Linked DNA regions of Homo sapiens. The gene in region 1 interacts genetically with each later gene. Each region holds a gene or a part of one and is shown on either strand. Other genes may lie near its edges.

The links. Genes that interact genetically often act in the same process or in processes that back each other up.
Region 2: changes in SLC30A6 (region 1) and GBF1 together harm fitness less than expected from each alone (positive genetic interaction), as found in Homo sapiens cells (one study listed by BioGRID).

The regions. Positions count from the first base shown.
Region 1 is NC_000002.12:32,160,396-32,169,730, reverse strand, and holds the start of SLC30A6 (zinc transporter 6), read right to left. Parts: upstream 3,868-9,335; 5' UTR 3,831-3,867; coding exon 3,828-3,830; exon of another isoform or gene 3,542-3,827; intron 1-3,541. UniProt on the Homo sapiens protein: Has probably no intrinsic transporter activity but together with SLC30A5 forms a functional zinc ion:proton antiporter heterodimer, mediating zinc entry into the lumen of organelles along the secretory pathway.
Region 2 is NC_000010.11:102,359,564-102,367,531, reverse strand, and holds part of GBF1 (Golgi-specific brefeldin A-resistance guanine nucleotide exchange factor 1), read right to left. Parts: intron 7,349-7,968; coding exon 7,137-7,348; intron 6,511-7,136; coding exon 6,412-6,510; intron 5,815-6,411; coding exon 5,620-5,814; intron 5,058-5,619; coding exon 4,868-5,057; intron 4,277-4,867; coding exon 4,136-4,276; intron 3,823-4,135; coding exon 3,734-3,822; intron 2,136-3,733; coding exon 1,933-2,135; intron 1,150-1,932; coding exon 1,026-1,149; intron 448-1,025; coding exon 322-447; intron 55-321; coding exon 1-54. UniProt on the Homo sapiens protein: Guanine-nucleotide exchange factor (GEF) for members of the Arf family of small GTPases involved in trafficking in the early secretory pathway; its GEF activity initiates the coating of nascent vesicles via the localized generation of activated ARFs through replacement of GDP with GTP.

The DNA of each region.
Region 1 (9,335 bases):
ATATAGGCTACACGGCAAACAGGATATTCACTCTGTCGCAGCCCCATTCTGCGGTGAAGGAGTAGCTGGGACTACAGGTACCCACCACCACGCCCGGCTAATTTTTTTTTACCTTTAGTAGAGACGGGGTTTCACCGTGTTAGCCAGGATGGTCTTGATCTCCTGACCTCGTGATCCGCCCGCCTTGGCCTCCCAAAGTGCTGGGATTACAGGCGTGAGCCACCGCACCCAGCCAATAAATATATCTTTTTCTTGGCTGGCCATGGTGGCTCATGCCTGTAATTCCACCACTTTGGGTGACTGAGTCAGGAGGATCAGTTGAGCCCAGGAGTTCAAGACCAGCCTAGGAAATATACTGAGACCCTGTCTCTACAAAAAAATTGAAAAGAAAAAAATTAGCCAGGCATAGTGGTACATGCCTGTAGTCCCAGCTACTCAGGACACCAAGGTGGAAGGATCGCATGAGCCCGGGAAGTCAAGCAGTGAGCCAGGTTCACACTTTACTCAAGCCTGGGCAACAGAGCGAGACCCCATCTCGAAATAAATAAATAAATACATAAATAAATGTACATATGTATAAATATTATATATATGTGTATGTACATATGTATATATATTCTTTTCTTAAAGAATTATGTGTGAGTTATTTTGGTTCCAAAGATTTAAAAAATTCTCCTTAATACTGTTATTTTGGACATCTTCTGTTTAACCCTAGCCAACTTTAAGTTTCAGGTTAAGAGAATCAACAAGGTTTCTAAGAGGCAGAAAGCCACTTCTGATGCCATCCTGACAATGAAAATAAAACAAAAATCCTAATGTCATATCACTCTTCCCAAAATTATATTGGCTCGCCATTGCTATCAGAATAAACTACAAATTTTACAACCTGAATTTCCAGGTTTTCAATGACTTAGCCTGTTTCTTTCCAGTCTTATCTCTTACTCCAGATAGAAACCCTCAACTTCAGTTAAACTGGTCTACTCTTTTGTCTCATGACCACTCTTGCGTGAAAAGGCCAGATCTGTCTAACCCAAGCTCTTATTCATATAATGACAAACAAGTATTAGATTAAGAGTATTAGAGTGGGGCACAAAGTACTTAGTTTCATGTTTCACTTCTTAAATGAAGTCTTCCTAGATCATTCCAAACTATAGTGTTTTTTATGCCACTTATTTTGCATTAACCAAAGTAAAGCCTTCAACTTGTTACATTGCTTTGTAATTTTAGTAACTTCACTAATGACAAGGGCTATTTTCCTTTATATTTTGTTTTTATATACTTATATTTTTAATATTATATATTTATATTATTTATATTTTCTAAGAAGGCACTGTTTTCACACAGCATGTTAATAAACACAAAACCTTTTTCTCAATATTTTATTTTAAAATATTTATTTTAAAAAATAAACCTTAAATACTGTTTCCCTGCATGACTAATACTGATGTTTCAAGCATAAAGATATAGTGCCATAGGTTTTCAGTGCTTTATAAAACAGACGTTTTATTTGTATTTTTCTTTATATTTTCTAAGAAAGTACTGTTTTCACATAGCATGTTCTTAATAAACGCAAAACCTTTTCTCAATATCCTTTAAAATAAACCTTAAATACTGTTTCCCTGCATGACTAATACTAATGTTTCAAGCATAAAGATATAGTGCCATAAGTTTTCAGTGTCTTATAAAACAGATGTTTATTGAAAACTTCCTCTGGGCCAGGCACGCTACAAAGCTCTGGGAATTAGGGTGAAATACATAGGTCCTGCTCTCAATGAGCTTACAGTCTAGAAAGTGAGAAAGACAAATAAGTACACAACTTTAACATCGTCTGTAAGGATTACAGATGTTACTGGTAAAAAACACAAGAGATTCAAGTTTTACTTTCTTAAATTAGGGCTGTGAGTTAATGAAGGTGTATAATCTGAAAGACCTCTGAATTTTAAGTCTCTTATCCCTTTATCTTCAACTCCCTTCAAATCATCAGTATTATAGGCAAGTTAAGTTTCTATTGTATGTATTCGTTTTGTGCAGCTTTATGTAACAAAACTGGTGTGTGTGTGTGTGTGTTTGTGCATATAAAAGCACAAGGTACCACCAGAGCACAAAGGAGAAGCAACTAAGAGGATACTGGAACATGAGGGAAAGGTTCATGAAAAATAATTAAGGATATATAAGGGTTATTCTGATAAGGACAGCCGATAGAGAACAGAGAACAATTCTGGGGATGGAAGAGCATATGCAAATTAGGTACAAAGGCTCAATTAATACAGCATGATTTGCAAGCTATTCACTGTGGCTGAAATACGGATGTTGCATACATGTATGCATTAAAAAAAAAAAAAAAAAAAGAGTTTGTGGCCTGGCACGGTGGCTCACGCCTGTAATCCCAGCACTTTGGGAGGCAGAGGCGGGAGGATCACCTGAGGTCAGGAGTTCGCGATCAGCCTGACCAACATGGAGAAACCCCGTCTCTACTAAAAATACAAAATTAGCCAGGCGTGGTGGCGCATTCCTGTAATCCCAGCTGCTCGGGAAGGTGAGGCAGGAGAATCGCTTGAACCCGGGAGGCGGAAGTTGTGGTGAGCCGCGATCGCGCCATTGCACTCCAGCCTGGGCAACAAGAGTGGAACTCCGTCTCGAAAACAACAACAAAAAAAGAGGCTGTAAAAGTAAGAAGCTTGATAATGAGTGGCTTTGTATGCCATGCTAAACAGGACTTTATCTTGAGTGCTACAGAAAAAAAAAAAAGGAGAAAATTTGAGTAAGGGAGTGATGTGGTCAAATTTTAGAAATATAACTCTGGCTACAGGCTTCACAATGGTGAATGTTTTGAAGAAGAGCGTAACTGAAGGCTATTTGATCATTAGCCAAAAAGTGTAAACTTTTACCCATTTTCTGTGTGCAAAAGGATTACAGAAAATTTACAAAACATAAAGTGTGTGAATGAGGCATTTTCCCGACCATATCCACTTAAGTAAAAAACTTAGTACAGTGACAAAAGCTTAGGCACAGAAATGTGGTCTCTTTCTCATACGTAGGCTATCAATAAGTACTCCATAAATTTTTCTAATAAATGCATTTTCAAAAGGCACACGCCACTTGGACACTTCAAATCCCAACCAACTGCTTATCTTTAAAGTTCAGAGCTATATATTTGAGCTCTAAAGGCAAAGAATGACTAATTCTAACAAATTTGAGAGAAAACACCATATCCCAACAACCATAACGTCTACTGGGTCTTCCATTAGTTTCTACAAACCCAGAAATAAAGCAGCAATAAAATGTCCTACCAACACCTTGACTTTCTGTAGTTACTGCGCTTATGAAATTTGCTGCCGTAATCAGGCTACTTAATATTTAGTAAAGCCAAGTTGCAGAGTGAGACGTCTGCCCTAAAACCCTATTACTAACCTTTTTTTTTTTTTTCCGCTGGCGTTATCGCCACTGCTCTAAGAATCACTATTACAGTTGTTGCTGTGGACTTGTTTTCAGATCTTTTGTTGGTGGCCTAGTTGTTGACGCTGGCAAAAACTTTTATTACCTTAAAGAAATCTCGGCAGAGGGAAGTCAGAAACTCGCCAGGAGCTGAAAGCTCTGCCTGCAGCGGGGCCTAGATCGTGAGCGCCTGCGGAACAGGTGAGGGACCGAAAGGGACCAGAACTCTGAAGGGGAACATTTTGGGAGACAGCCGCTCCTGCCAAGGGGCCCGACTTCAACTCCAATGACCCCTCCTCTGGGTGGCTGAGGGATTTCAAGGTCGCTTCGGGACCAAATAAGATAAACCGAATCAGCTACAGCCGAAACCCTCACCCCAACAGCCAACTCACCATGATAAGGAGCTGCACAGCTCCCGCCGGAAGCCGTTCTGGGTGCTCGAGTTTTCCCAGAACGGAAGGGGTGGGGCACCAGTGGGCGATTGGCTGTGAGGAAAGCGTGGGAGGAAGTGCGTGCTCTGGCCTCCGGCTTCCGTCCCCTTCCCGGCTGTCCCTGCACTCCGTGGCGGAAGGCGGCTAGAGCGGCTCCCTCTGAGCTCTCCGAGAGATTGGTCGGGACCTGAAGCGTTGAGGTTAAGGGCAAGGCAAGGAGCAACGAGGAGTTTTTCGTTACGTTAGAAAAATTTCGTTGCGTGCTGAAGCGCTTTTACCTGTGTTGTATGATTTAACCTTATGAAAATGGACAGTATTCCAGTTTTACAAGTGAGGAAAGAAGATTAAGAAACTTGCCTCCGCCAGGCGTGGTGGTTCACTCCTGTAATCCCAGCACTTTCGGCGGCGAGGCAGGCGGATCACTTGAGGTCAGGAGTTCGAGACCAGCCTGGCCAACATGGTGAAACCCCGGCTCTACTAAAAATGCAAAAATTAGCCGGGCGTAGTGGCACGCGCCTGTAATCCCAGCTACTCTGGAGGCTGAGGCAGGAGAATCGCTTGAACCTAGGAGGCGGAGGTTGCAGTGAGCCGAGATCGCGCCACTACACTCCAGCCTGGGCGACAGCGCGAGACTCCGTCTCAAAAAAAAGAAACTTGCCTTGAGTCCTACATATAGTTTGCTGTAGTAGCAGAATTTGAACTCGGACCGACTAATGGTCTACTTAATAAAATGCTATTTGGATTCTCTATAAAATTAATAATATAGAAGTAATGTTAATTATAGAAAACTTGGAAAATATTAAATTCATTCGATAAAGATTGAATATGTAGCACGTGTGTTTGTCAGATACTGGTCTCGTGAAAATTATATTCTGGTAGGGAAGACAGAAAACAAGTAGGGATAAAGAAATTTTTAAAAGATATTCATAAGTAGTGTCGTGTAGAAAACTGGGTATAGGTTGAGTATCCTTCATCCCAAATGCTTAAGACCAGAACTGTTTCAGATTGTGGCTCTTTATCTTGGGGATGGGGCCAGAGGCTAAACTTGAAATTCATTTATGTTTCGTATACACCTTATGCACATAGCCTCAGGGTAATTTTATGCAATTTTAAAAATTGTGTGTGTATCAAACAAAATTTTGACTACAGCTTTTTACATGCGGTCAGGTGTGGAATTTTCCACTGTGGCATCGTGTTGATGATCAAAAAGTTTTGATTTTGGAGCATTTTAATTTCAGATGGTTGGATTAGGGTTGCTGAACATGTAATGGTATACAGAACAACTGAGTAGGTGTGGTGCTCACGTCTGTAATCCCAGCACTTTGGGAGGCCTAGGCGGGCGAATCACGAGGTCAGGAGTTTGAGACCAGCCTGGCCAACATGGTGAAACCCTGTCTGTACTAAAGATAAAAAAAATTAGCTGGGCGTAGTGGCGGGTGCCTGTAATCCCAGCTGCTAAGAAGGCTGAGGCAGGAGAATTGCTTGAACCCGGGAGGCAGAGGTTGCAGTGAGGCGAGATCGTGCCCCTGCTCTCCAGCCTGGGCAACAGTGCAACACTTCATCTCAAAAAAATAAATAAGAAGTAAAAAATAAATAAAATCGTAGGTATTATCATCTATCGACAATCTGTTCTCCACACTGCAGCCACAGTAATCTTTTTTAGTAGAGGAGAGGTCTTGCTATGTTGCGCAGGCTGGTCTGGAACTCCTGGGCTCAAGTGATCCTCCTGCCTCAGCCTCCCAAGATGCTAGCATTACAGGCATGAGCCAACACCCCTGTCCTATACCTAGGATTTAATGAACATTCAATATGTGGTAGGCAGTATTCTAAGAATTTGAGGCCAGGCACAGTGCCTCATGCCTGTAATCCCAGCACTTTGGGAGGCTGAGGCAGGCAGATCACTTGAGGTCAAGAGTTTGAGATCAGCCTGGCCAACATGGCAAAACCCCGTCTCTACTAAAAATATAAAACTTAGCCGGGTGTGGTGGCAGGCACCTGTAATCTCAGCTACTCGGGAGGCTGAGGCAGGAGAATTGCTTGAACCCAGGAGGCGGAGGTTGCACTGAGCTGAGATGAAGCCTGGGTGAGAGAGATTCCATCTCAAAAAAAAAAAAAAAAAGCCGGGTGCAGTGGCTCATGCCTGTAATCCCAGCACTTTGGGAGGCCAAAGCGGGTGGATCACGAGGTCAGGTTTTTGAGACTAGCCTGGCCAACATAGTGAAACCCCGTCTCTATTGAAAATAGCCAGGTGTGGTGGCAGGAGCCTGTAATCCCAGCTACTCAGGAGGCTGAGGCAGGAGAATCACTTGAACCTGGGAGGCAGAGGTTGCAGTGGGCCGAGATCGTGCCATTGCACTCCAGCCCAGGCGACAGTGCAAGACTCTGTCTCAAAAAAAAAAAAAAAAAAAAAAAGCACGATTATGTGTTAGCTCATTTAATCCTCATAACAGCCTTTGACATAGGTACTACTATTATCCCCTGCTTGGGAAAATCACACACCTAATCAGTGGCAGATTATAGACACGTGCCACCACGCCCGGCTAATTTTTGTATTTTTAGTAGAGTCAGGGTTTCACCATGTTGTGCAGGCTGGTCTCAAATGCCTGACCTCAGGTGATCTACCTGCCTTGGCCTCCCAAAGTGCTGGGATTACAGGCATGAGCCACTGCACCCGGCCTGGAGAGGTACCTTTAAACCATATAAATATCACATTCCTCATTATGCTTGTAATTTGTTTATGTTTGTATTCATATATTCACATGAGCTCATGGTTTATTTCTTCTGATGGGTTATAATTAATTACTACTATTACTTATTTTGATGCTCAAATTTGTCCAGTGGGAACCCTTTTAATCTGTGTGTCATTTCAATGATTCATCCTCATCAATCTTTGGGCACTTTTTCTCTCTGGCACAAGAAGTTCCACACTCATGTATTTTCTCTGCCCCAGCCCTGAATTTAGCCATTTTATCAAAGAGTCTTGGTTCCTTTAGTTGATGTTATGGACTGAATATTCGTGTCCCTCAAATTCATATGTTGAAGCCTTCACCAGCAATGTGATGGTCTTTGGTGATTCAGCCTTTGGGAAGTACCTAGGGTTAGATGAGATAATGAGGATGGGACTGTCATGATGGGATTAATGCCCTTTTAAAAAGGGACACCAGAGAGCTTGTGCTGTCTGCCATACAAGGACACGGTGAGAAGGTGGCCATCTGCAAGCCAGGAAGAAAGCCCTCACTAGAAACCAAACTGGCTGGTACTTTAATCTTGGACTTCCAAGCTTCTAGAACTGTGAGGATAAATTTCTGTTATTTAAGCTGCCCAGTCTATGGTATTTTGTAATGCAGCCCAAGCAGACTAAGACAGTGAAGAATTTGGAAGGCAAGATATGGGTACTTTATGTGCTCATTATTATTGGAGCATAACTGCTCCAAGGCCACCTTGGTGGACAGACTAGGGAATATACATATTTGGACACATACACACGTGTATATTTATATGCTTATATGTCCTCTATTTTTATTTGAGGCAGGATCTCGCTCTGTTGCCCAGGCTGGAGTGCAGTGGTGCGATCTCAGCCCACTGCAACCTCTGCCTCCCAGGTTCAAGTGATTCTCGTGCCTCAGCCTCCCAAGTAGCTGGGACTACAGGTGTGTACCACCACACCTGGCTAATTTTTGTATTTTTACTAGAGATGGGGTTTCGCAGTGTTGGCCAGGCTGGTCTCAAACTCCTGATCTCAAGCGATCTGCCCGCCTCGGCCTCCCAAAGTGCTGGGATTATATGCGTGAGCCACTGTGCCCAGCCGATATTTCATCTATTTTTATAGATTTTAAACCATGAATTCACTTTCTTAAACCCAATTCAAGCTGAACTCCAGGTTTCATTCTAGTTTCCCCCCTTTCTGTATTTATAATTACCTTCTCTGTGGTTAGTATATTCACTTTATTCCATCAAGTCTTTGGTGTGCAACCAATCTACCATCTCTGCTGACACCCTTACCCCATATGGACACCCCTTTCTGTGCTTGAGCTTATTCCTCATTCCAGGTTGCCCCTATCCACCATGTGAATAACTGCCTCAATCTGTCCCTGACACCTCATACCTAGCTGTCCATCATTGTAGACACTGTCTTCACCCTATTAGGTCTCTGACACCCAAATTTGGACTTCCATAGGTCCCCTCTACCCAATGTAAGCACATTGATCTGAACCACTGTGCAAACACGTGCCTGGGACTGCTATCCCCAGAAAGTCCTGCTGGCAAGGTTGGCCCTTGCCAGGCATCTGGGAACTTGAATTTGAGGGGAGATTCCCTCTATTCCCTAACAAGCTTACTATGTCTAACAGTGAGGCTTAACACTTTCACATGCTGTCACTTGTTGCTGGAGTGACATCCTGTGTGACTTCATTAGGAGAGAACCCTTAGAAGCTGGTGCTTGGTTTCCTCTGGACTTCACTTAATTCCTTTTTTCCCTTTGCTGAATTTGCTTCATATCCTTTTGCTCTAATAAATCATTGTTGGGAATAAGACTATATGCTGAGTCCTGTGAGTGCTCCTAACGAATCATCAAACTTGCACATAGTCTCGAGGGCTTAACCACCTAATGACTTTAAAACAATAGTTCTGGCAGGGTGTGGTGGCTCTGCCTGCCTGTAATCCCAGCATTTTGGGAGGCCGAGGCAGGAGGATCACTTGAGCCCAGGAGTTTGAGACTGCAGGGATTTTGAGACTGATTACGCCACTGCTGTCCAGCCTGGGGCAATAGAGACTCTGTCTCTAAAAAAAAACCTCAACCCCCTGAAAAAAAAAAAATCCACAACAGTTCAGGAAGGAGGAAGGTAAGCAATTTAGTGACATTATTAATTTCAGCTCTTCCATCCCACTGTTTTATCTTACACTTCTTTGCTCTGTTTTTCTTTCCTTGATTTCATTTGACTAATCACATAATTCTTAGTGACCCATTTTATCTTCTCTAATGGCTTTTTAGATCTACTGCACCCCAGTGATGGGGTGAGAGATTACAAAATGCATTCTTATCACAATCTACCTTACACTAATGCTATCTCACTTTGTGTACAATATAGTAATATTATCTCAATATAATTACATTTATTGCCCTCTCTGACCCTTCATGCTATTTCTGTCCTATATTTTACTTATACATATATTATAAACACTGCAATACTATTTTTGTTTGCTTTAAACAGCAATGATATTTAGAAAAATAAAAAAGAAAAATGTCTTTCTTATTTACCAACATGTTTATCATTTCAAAATTCTTAATTCCATCCTGGAGATACAGGTTCCCATTGGGAAATCCATTTACTGATAAGTCCATCCAAGGAAAATTTTAATTTCAGATACTACGTTTTTCACTCCAGATTTATATTTTCCTTCAGCCTGAAGAATTTCTTAAAGCATTCCGTATAAAGTCAGTCTGCCAGCAACAAATTCTGTTTTCATCTG
Region 2 (7,968 bases), on another chromosome or scaffold:
GTCTTGCTCAAAGTCCTTGCCTCCATTCACACCTTTCAGATTTTTGCGAAACTCCTAGAGACAGGCCAGTAAGTTTTTTCCCCTTGTGTCAACACTGAAGCCCCACCTAAGGAACTCCTGGGTTTTCAGTAAATAGGACTTAGGAAAAGGTAAGCGAAAAAACCCACTTCCCCACCCCAGTCCCTTTTCTAGGTTGGCCAGCCCTTCCTGATTCCCTTGGACAGAACCCCATCCATCATGCCCACTGGAAATCCTATGTCCTTCCTGCTACCTCCCAAGCTGTGCTGGGTCTTCTTTGCCTTGACTGGGACCCAAGCTTACCTCCAGGGTCATGGGTGCATTCTGTTTACGAACATTGTGGTTGTGCTGGTCAGTATTAAGCATGATGACAGCATAGGCCAGGGAAAAGCAGGCATCGCTATTGGCAAATGGGGAGCCATTACAATTCTGAAAAAGCAAAGATCCCGCCTGTGTCAATGCCCTTCTCTGGCCAATTAAACCCTCACTACCAACCCACTGGTCAGTGCTAGTACAGAGGAGAGGTACCATCCAGAAAGTGGCCAGTCTCTTGCCAACTCCTTAACAGAAGCTGATCTCTTTGTGGAAAGGTCACTAATTTTGCTCTCTGACTTTTTAAGAGACAGCAGGCTGGGTGCGGTGGTTCACGCTTGTAATCCCAGCACTCAGGGAGGCCGAGGTGGGCGGATCACCCGAGATCAGGAGTTCGAGACCAGCCTGACCAACATGGCAAAACCCATCTCTACTAAAAATACAAAAATTAGCCAGGCTTGGTGGCAGGTGCCTGAAATCCCAGCTACTCAGGAGGCTAAGGCAGGAGAATTGCTTGAACCCGGGGGGTGGAGGTTGCAGTGTGCTGAGACTGCGCTACTGCACTCCAGCCTGGGTGACAGAGCGAGACTCTGTCTCAAAAAAAAAAAAAAAAAAAAGAGACAGCAGCTGGATTCTTCAGCCCTCAGTCAAACTGACCTTGGATCCTGGGCTCAGCCCCTGACACTCAAACTCACCATCCAACGCTCTGTGAATGCCTCCAGCAACCTCTGGATGACTGGTGCTTCCCCAGGCAAACGGAAGGCTTCCAGGTAGAGGCGGAGGGCTTCGTCCAGTCGCAGACCCTGAAAACTGAAGGTGCTATAGGGAAAGAAAGGAAGAAGAGGCTGAAAATGTGTAAGCTGCACATGTCAGGCTCTTTTAGTCACTGTCCTCCTAACCTACTCTTACTGGAAGAGAGGAGGCTGAGGTCTCTAGTAAAGGGGCAGTATCTCCTGTTCATCCCTAACACAACCCCTAGCCTTAATACTTTTCACATCCACGGACTCTTGCCTAGAACCCTCACCCCCTGGAACCCTGCTCTACCCCTTTGGAATGGACTCCATGCAGAATGGAGGGGGCTCCCCAAACTATCTCGTTGGAGTCCCTTTCAGGTCCAATAGATATAAATGATGGGTAGAGGAAGAACATTGGCTAGGGTCTCCAGAAGAAATTTATAGAGACCGCTTTGAGGTAGGGATGTTCTGTCCCTTTAAACTGATCACTAACCATGTCCCACCTTTTTTTTTTTTGAGCCAAGGTCTCACTCTATCACAGCTCTATCACAGTGGCATGATCTCACTCTATCTCACTCTATCTCACTCTATCACAGTGGCATGATCACAGCTCACTGCAGCCTCGAACTCCCAGACTCAAGTGATCTTCCTGCCTCAGCCTCCTGAACAGCTGGGACTACAGGCACATGCCACCATGCCCAGCTAATTTTTGTATTTTTTGTAGAGACAGGGTTTCACCATGTTGCCCAGGCTGGTCTTGAACTCCTGAGCTCGAGTGATCTGCCTGCCTCAGCCTCCCAAAGTGTCAGGATTACAGGCATGAGCCACCATACCTGGCTATATCCCACATTTCTTACAGCTTCCTCACCTCACAAAGCTCTCCAACAGGTCAATGTTTTTGCGGTCACTCACAAACTCTCCAATCATCTTCTTGTCCAGCCGAGGGTTCTCTCGGAGCCACTGAGCAACCTCTGTGTTGTCCATTGGGATGGTGAGGAGGCCTTTCTCTTGCAGAAACTGAATCCCCTTCTTTGGTTTCTGATTGAACTGCTCTGTGCCAGTGATTAGCAGCTGCATGAGAAAAACTAGAGGTATAGAAGCTACTTTGCCTCTAAATTAGACAAGGCCAGCCTGGAGTCCACCATAGCCCACCCACAGTTGGTCAGCTAAAAAGCTCCTAGGATGTGGTTCTTAGTGATTACAGAACTAAGGCTAGATCATAATGGCCTTAGCTTCCCCCATCTTCATGTCTAATTGAATTGGCTTACGAGCTCTTTTTTACTCCTTTCCTGAGTGCTCAAGATACATAAAACAGTTCCTCTTCTCTAACTTAGGATTGGGGGAAAAGTAGAAGAAAGAAACTAGGTAATTCTTCTCTCCAGTTTTATATCCATCCCTGACATTTGTTGATAGCCAGCCTCTTGTTTTTAGCCTAGCTTAGCTTCTTTGGTTGCCTAGCTTAATGCCCTGGGTTTGAAAGACAAAGTGGACTAACTGTGGAGGCAACTCATATTTCTGTATGTCCAGTCACGGCCAGGTACTCAAGGGCACACATGAACCAAAGTCATTTAAGCTGGCAATAAGAGAAAGAAAGGGTTAGGTTTTTTTTTTCTTTTTCCGAGATGGAGTTTCACTCTGTTGCCCAGGCTGGAGTGCAGTGGCGTGATCTCAGCTCACTGCAACCTCTGCCTCCCAGGTTCAACTGATTCTCCTGCCTCAGTCTCCCGAGTAGCTGGGATTACAGGCATGCACCACCATGCCCAGCTAATTTTTGTATTTTTAGTAGAGACGGGGTTTCATCGTGTTAGCCAGGCTGGTCTCAAACTCCTGACCTCAGGTGATCTGCCCACCTCGATCTCCCAAAGTGCTGGGATTACAGGCGTGAGCCACTGCGCCCGGCCAGAAAGGGTTAGGTTTTCTTTGTGTTAAGAAACCCAAAGTACAGGCCAGACATGGTGGCTCACGACTGTAATCCCAGCACTTTGGGAGGCCAAGGTGGGCAGATCACGAGGTCAGGAGATCAAGACCACCCTGGCTAACACGGTGAAACCCCGTCTCTACTAAAAATACAAAAAATTAGCCAGGCATGGTGGCACACGCCTGTAGTCCCAGCTACTTGGGAGCCTGAGGCAGAAGAATTGCTTGAACCCGGTAGGTGGAGGTTGCAGTGAGCTGAGATCATGCCACTGCACTCCAGCCTAGGCAACAGAGAGAGACTCCGTCTGAAAAAAAAAAAAAAAAAAAAAAAAAGAAATCCAAAGTACAAACAGTTATTTGAACCTTACTATTTGAACCTTACTAAAGCACCAGAATGAATATCAATTTCCCTTTATTGCCAATCATCTTGCAAGAGCTGGAGATGACAGTAACCTTCAATGACCCACAAGACACCAACTCCCAAGGCTCCTGTCACTGCCACTAGTGACACTTGGCTCTCAACTGGTACAGCATTTGCGCAGGGGCATACATAGGGTATGCTCAACTACATAGCTTAGGAGTAAGGGAAGGGCTTCAAATGGGAGTTGCTGAAGTCCCAACAAGCCCAAAGACTGGCCTCAGGAAGCTGTACAATGAGGTGCTAGACTCTCCTTCATCTTCTGAGATGGAAACCCTACAACACTGGACACCCAGACAGAGGTGGACAGAGGCTGGGGAATACATGTATGTACCTTCTTTTTGTTTTTAATTTCAATTAGTTCCCGTGGATCTGGCAGGAGACAGGAAAATCGGGGTGGCTTCCGGGCAAACTTTTTGTCAGCTAGGAGTAGGAAGAAGAGGGGGGAAATATCTGTAACACCTTTTTTTACCCAGATAAGGACTTTTGGAAGGTCACCAATATACTCCCCAGTTTCAAGAAGGAGCCTCAGAAATCTTGTCCTCACCAGTCTTCCACTTCCCTGGAAGTCCTATCAACTGAGGGTCCATATGTTTGCTTCCCTCTCTCTGAGTCTGAAGGCGAGGCGGGCTACCAAGGCTTGCTTAGTTACTATCCTAGGTGTCTGCTCCCTCCCTCTGCTCTTCACCAGGCCCTCCAGGTGAGGAGCTTAGGGTCATGGACACCCAGTACCCACCCCCAGAGTCAACAGCTTCCTCCAGATCACTGCATCCTGATTTCCCATGTTCTGGTGGCAGCCGCCCTCCACCTGGCAGATGCAGGCCTGGGATGTCTGAGGCCATGCCTACAGCTTTCCCATCGCTGGCAGTTCTCTCAGCTGGTAAGAGAGAAGAAGATACGTGAAGACTTATAGGGTATGAAGCCAAGCAGAGCTGCAGGATAGATCAAATCCCAAGCCCAGAAGACCTGCATGGTTCCTGCACAGGGCGCCAGCCCTGAGCAGGACAAACCCAAGCCAAAATAAGTAGTCCCTGTCCCAGCCAAGCATTAGATTCTCTAATTTAATGAAGAGATTACCCAGTCACTTTCCCTGATCTTCTGCAACCTCAAATTTCAAGGGGGAGCTAGAGAGGACTAATTAGAGTGGAGGCAGATATTGGGGATGAGGGATGGTGGGACCTGGAGCTTTCAGAGACAGAAATCCTATATTCTTTAATCTCTGTTCTCTTCTCTTGCCATAAAGAAATAATAATTCTGTAAAAAACCAAAGTGGGGAGGAGGAAAAAGGGAGAAGGCTATGAGTTCTACTAATCTGCCTGACTGGCCTGTGATTTAAACTGCCAAAGCCCAGAAACAGAATTGGGAGCATCCCAGGGGAAGTGATATGGGGACAGGAAAAACGACTCAGAGAGTAGAGAAGGGATAAGCATAGAACACTGGGTTCATCAAAGAAAGAAATGCCTCTCACTATTGCTAGCTTCTCGGGTGCCATCTACTATCTCACAGCTTGGTCTGGCTGTCTCCTTCTTCTCTTGCTGGGTGAGGCTGTTGAGGACTTTAGCCTGGCAGTGGGCCTCGGTGCTGTCAATCACTGTCAATAGGGCATCAAGAGATAGTAGGTGTGTTGTATAGAGTTGACCAGACACAGGGAAGGCATTCTGGAAAGTAAACAGATCAATTGGACTTGTAGTTAGGAGAACACTTTACACTTTGATCATTTTCTAAAATTTCCAAAACTTCTTCTAACTTGTACATTGCCCTTAGAAAACGTCTTTCTGGCCGGGCGTGGTGGCTCATGCCTGTAATCCCAGCACTTTGGGAGGCCGAGGCGGGTGGATCACAAGGTCAGGAGATCGAGACCATCCTGGCTAACATGGTGAAACCCCGTCTCTGCTAAAAATACAAAAAATTAGCCGGGCGTGGTGGTGGGCACCTGTAGTCCCAGCTACTCGGGAGGCTGAGGCAGGAGAATGGTGTGAACCCGGGAGGTGGAGCTTGCAGTGAGCCGAGATCGCGCCACTGCACTCCAGCCTGGGCAACAGAGTGAGACTCCATCTCAAAAAAAAAAAAAAAAAAAAAAAAGAAAAGAAAAGAAAATGCCTTTCTTCTATTTCCCAGCTCTCAAGTGTTCCCCTCTCTGTATGTAACATCCTCACTACCACCAGGGAGATTTCCTTTATAATGCGTTTTTTCCTAGAAGCCAGTTATAGTGCTCAGCACCTTGGACAGCAGCTTTGTGAGTTCCTCAAAGAGGTTGGAACAGTAGTAGTCACAATCATAGTTGATGTAGAGCTCTGTGACAAAGCTGGGGATGCGCCAGAGCTGCACAATGGCCTCCAGTGCCATCTCCTTCATCTCATAAGGCATCTTGGGGTTCTCCACAGTGATGATCTCCATAAGCTTTTTGATGTACATCTGGCAATAACCCAGTAATTGCCATTTGGGTGGGGAAAGGATTCAAGATAGGAAGAGAAAAAATTAGACAGGAAAAACATTAAACAGGATGCAGAAGCCCAGCCTAGAGGCATGTATTAAGAGACACCCAAAGGTATTCCATCCCCTAAATATATCTCTTCTTTGGCCTCCATGTTGGGGGATAAGGCCTGGCTCTCTACCACATACCTGGTCCCAGACAAGTTGCCTCTTGCCCTTTTGTGCTATGTGAACATGACCTGGTCCTATTTAGAGTTCCTTTTAGCAATTTAGTGACAATGCTGGCTTGACTTACCTACCTGTGTTGCAGAGTAACTGCTGGGCAGAAGAGCTGTCCCTATTCATGGTAAGGTTACCTGGCAGTTCTCATATTTGGGGTCAGCCAGTTTCCTTTGGTCTCCTTTTAACTTTTCCACAAAAGAGGCCAGTTGATTGAACCGAACTCTGGAGGCTAAAAGGACTCTCCTATAGGAAGTCCCTAAATCCTACCCCTGTAGCATGATAGAGCTGGCCCCACTGAAGATGCCATATATCTCCCTATTTTTTTTCCCCCTTTTCTTTCCACATCAAGAAACTCACCTCCATTTGGAACTTGAGGTGCTCTCGCATGCTCTCAAACAGTAGGAAGCATACTCGCAGGGAAGCAGCATAAAGGTTTAGTCGCTCTATGCTGAGTAGCTGGAGATGAGAGCAGGGTAGGCCATGAGTTTTTTTTTTTTTTTTTTGAGGCGGAGTTTCACTCTGTTGCCCACGCTGGAGTGCAGTGGCGCAATCTCAGCTCACTGCAACCTCTGCCTCCTGGGTTTAAGATATTCTCCTTCCTCAGCCTCCCAAGAAGCTGGGATTACAGGCGCACGTCACCATGCCCAGCTAATTTGATATTTTTAGTAGAGACTGGGTTTCACCACATTGGTCAGGCTGGTCTCAATCTCCTGACCTCGTGATCCGCCCGCCTTGGCCTCCCAAAGTGCTGGGATTACAGGCGTGAGCCACTGCACCCAGCCCGGCTGTGAGGTTTCTGAAGCTGACTATGGCTCAACCAAGAGAGGCAGAAGAGGCAAACTGAGTGAAGGTGTCACTGAGGTCCATTGCTTCCAGGGAACTCTACATCTAGCCATTCCTATATTTCTCTCTGGCTGCCAGAGTCCCTGGGGAACTACTGGAACCCTCTTACTAAAACTACTAGCCAACTGGGAGGGAGATGCTTTCCTAGGTCCTATACTCTTTGCGTAATCAGCCAGACCTCCCTGTGTTCCCCTGGCCCTTGAAAGAGGCTCTGAGACCCTCTAGCAATCTTGTCTTACCTGGAATAAGTGACGGCACATCTCATCCTTGATGAGGCCCAAGAGGGTCTGGCACTGGGCTACAGGGGCTGACTCAAGGGCCACTGTCAGCAAATGCAGTCCCATGTGAATCATAACCTCTGAGTTATGGCGGTCGTGTGGATTGGTGAGGGAGATGAGGAAGCGGAAGAGCTCGCGGATGCAGGGAAGACCATAGGGGACCAAAGCTGTGCCTGGGGAAGGCCAGGAGGAGAGTGAGACTGCTATAAAACAACTAGTCTGCTGGCTTTGCCTAGCCTGCTCTGCATTACACAAGGCAATTTTAGGTAAGTGATTCTCTTTGAAGAAAAGGGCTGGGCGTGATGGCTCATGCCTGTAATCCTAGTGCTTTGGGAGGCTAAGGTGGGAGGACTGTTTGAGGCCAGGAGTTTGAGACCAGCCCAGGCAACACAGAGAGACCCCATCTCTACAGAAGATTTTTTAAAAGTAGCCAAGTGCAGTGGTGCATGCCTATAGTCTCAAATACTTGGGAGGCTGAGGTGGGAGGATTGCTTGAACCCAGGAAGTCGAGGATATAGTGAGCTGTGATTGTGCCACTGCAGCAATCCAGCCTGGGCGACAGGAAAAAAAAAAAAAAAGGAAAAGGATTTTTTTTTTTTTCCTGGGGACATGAGGGGACTAGTCTACTTCTGGAGGAAATCAGAATTGATGATCCTACCTTTCTGTTAAAAGTCCTAAGCTTTTTTCCCTTCCTTCTTGCTTCCTATTGCCCATCAAACTTCCTCCCTGTAGTATAAGTTAGGGAAGGGCTCCCTCCATGCCAACAGTCTATGGCTTGACTCCATTTCCTGAC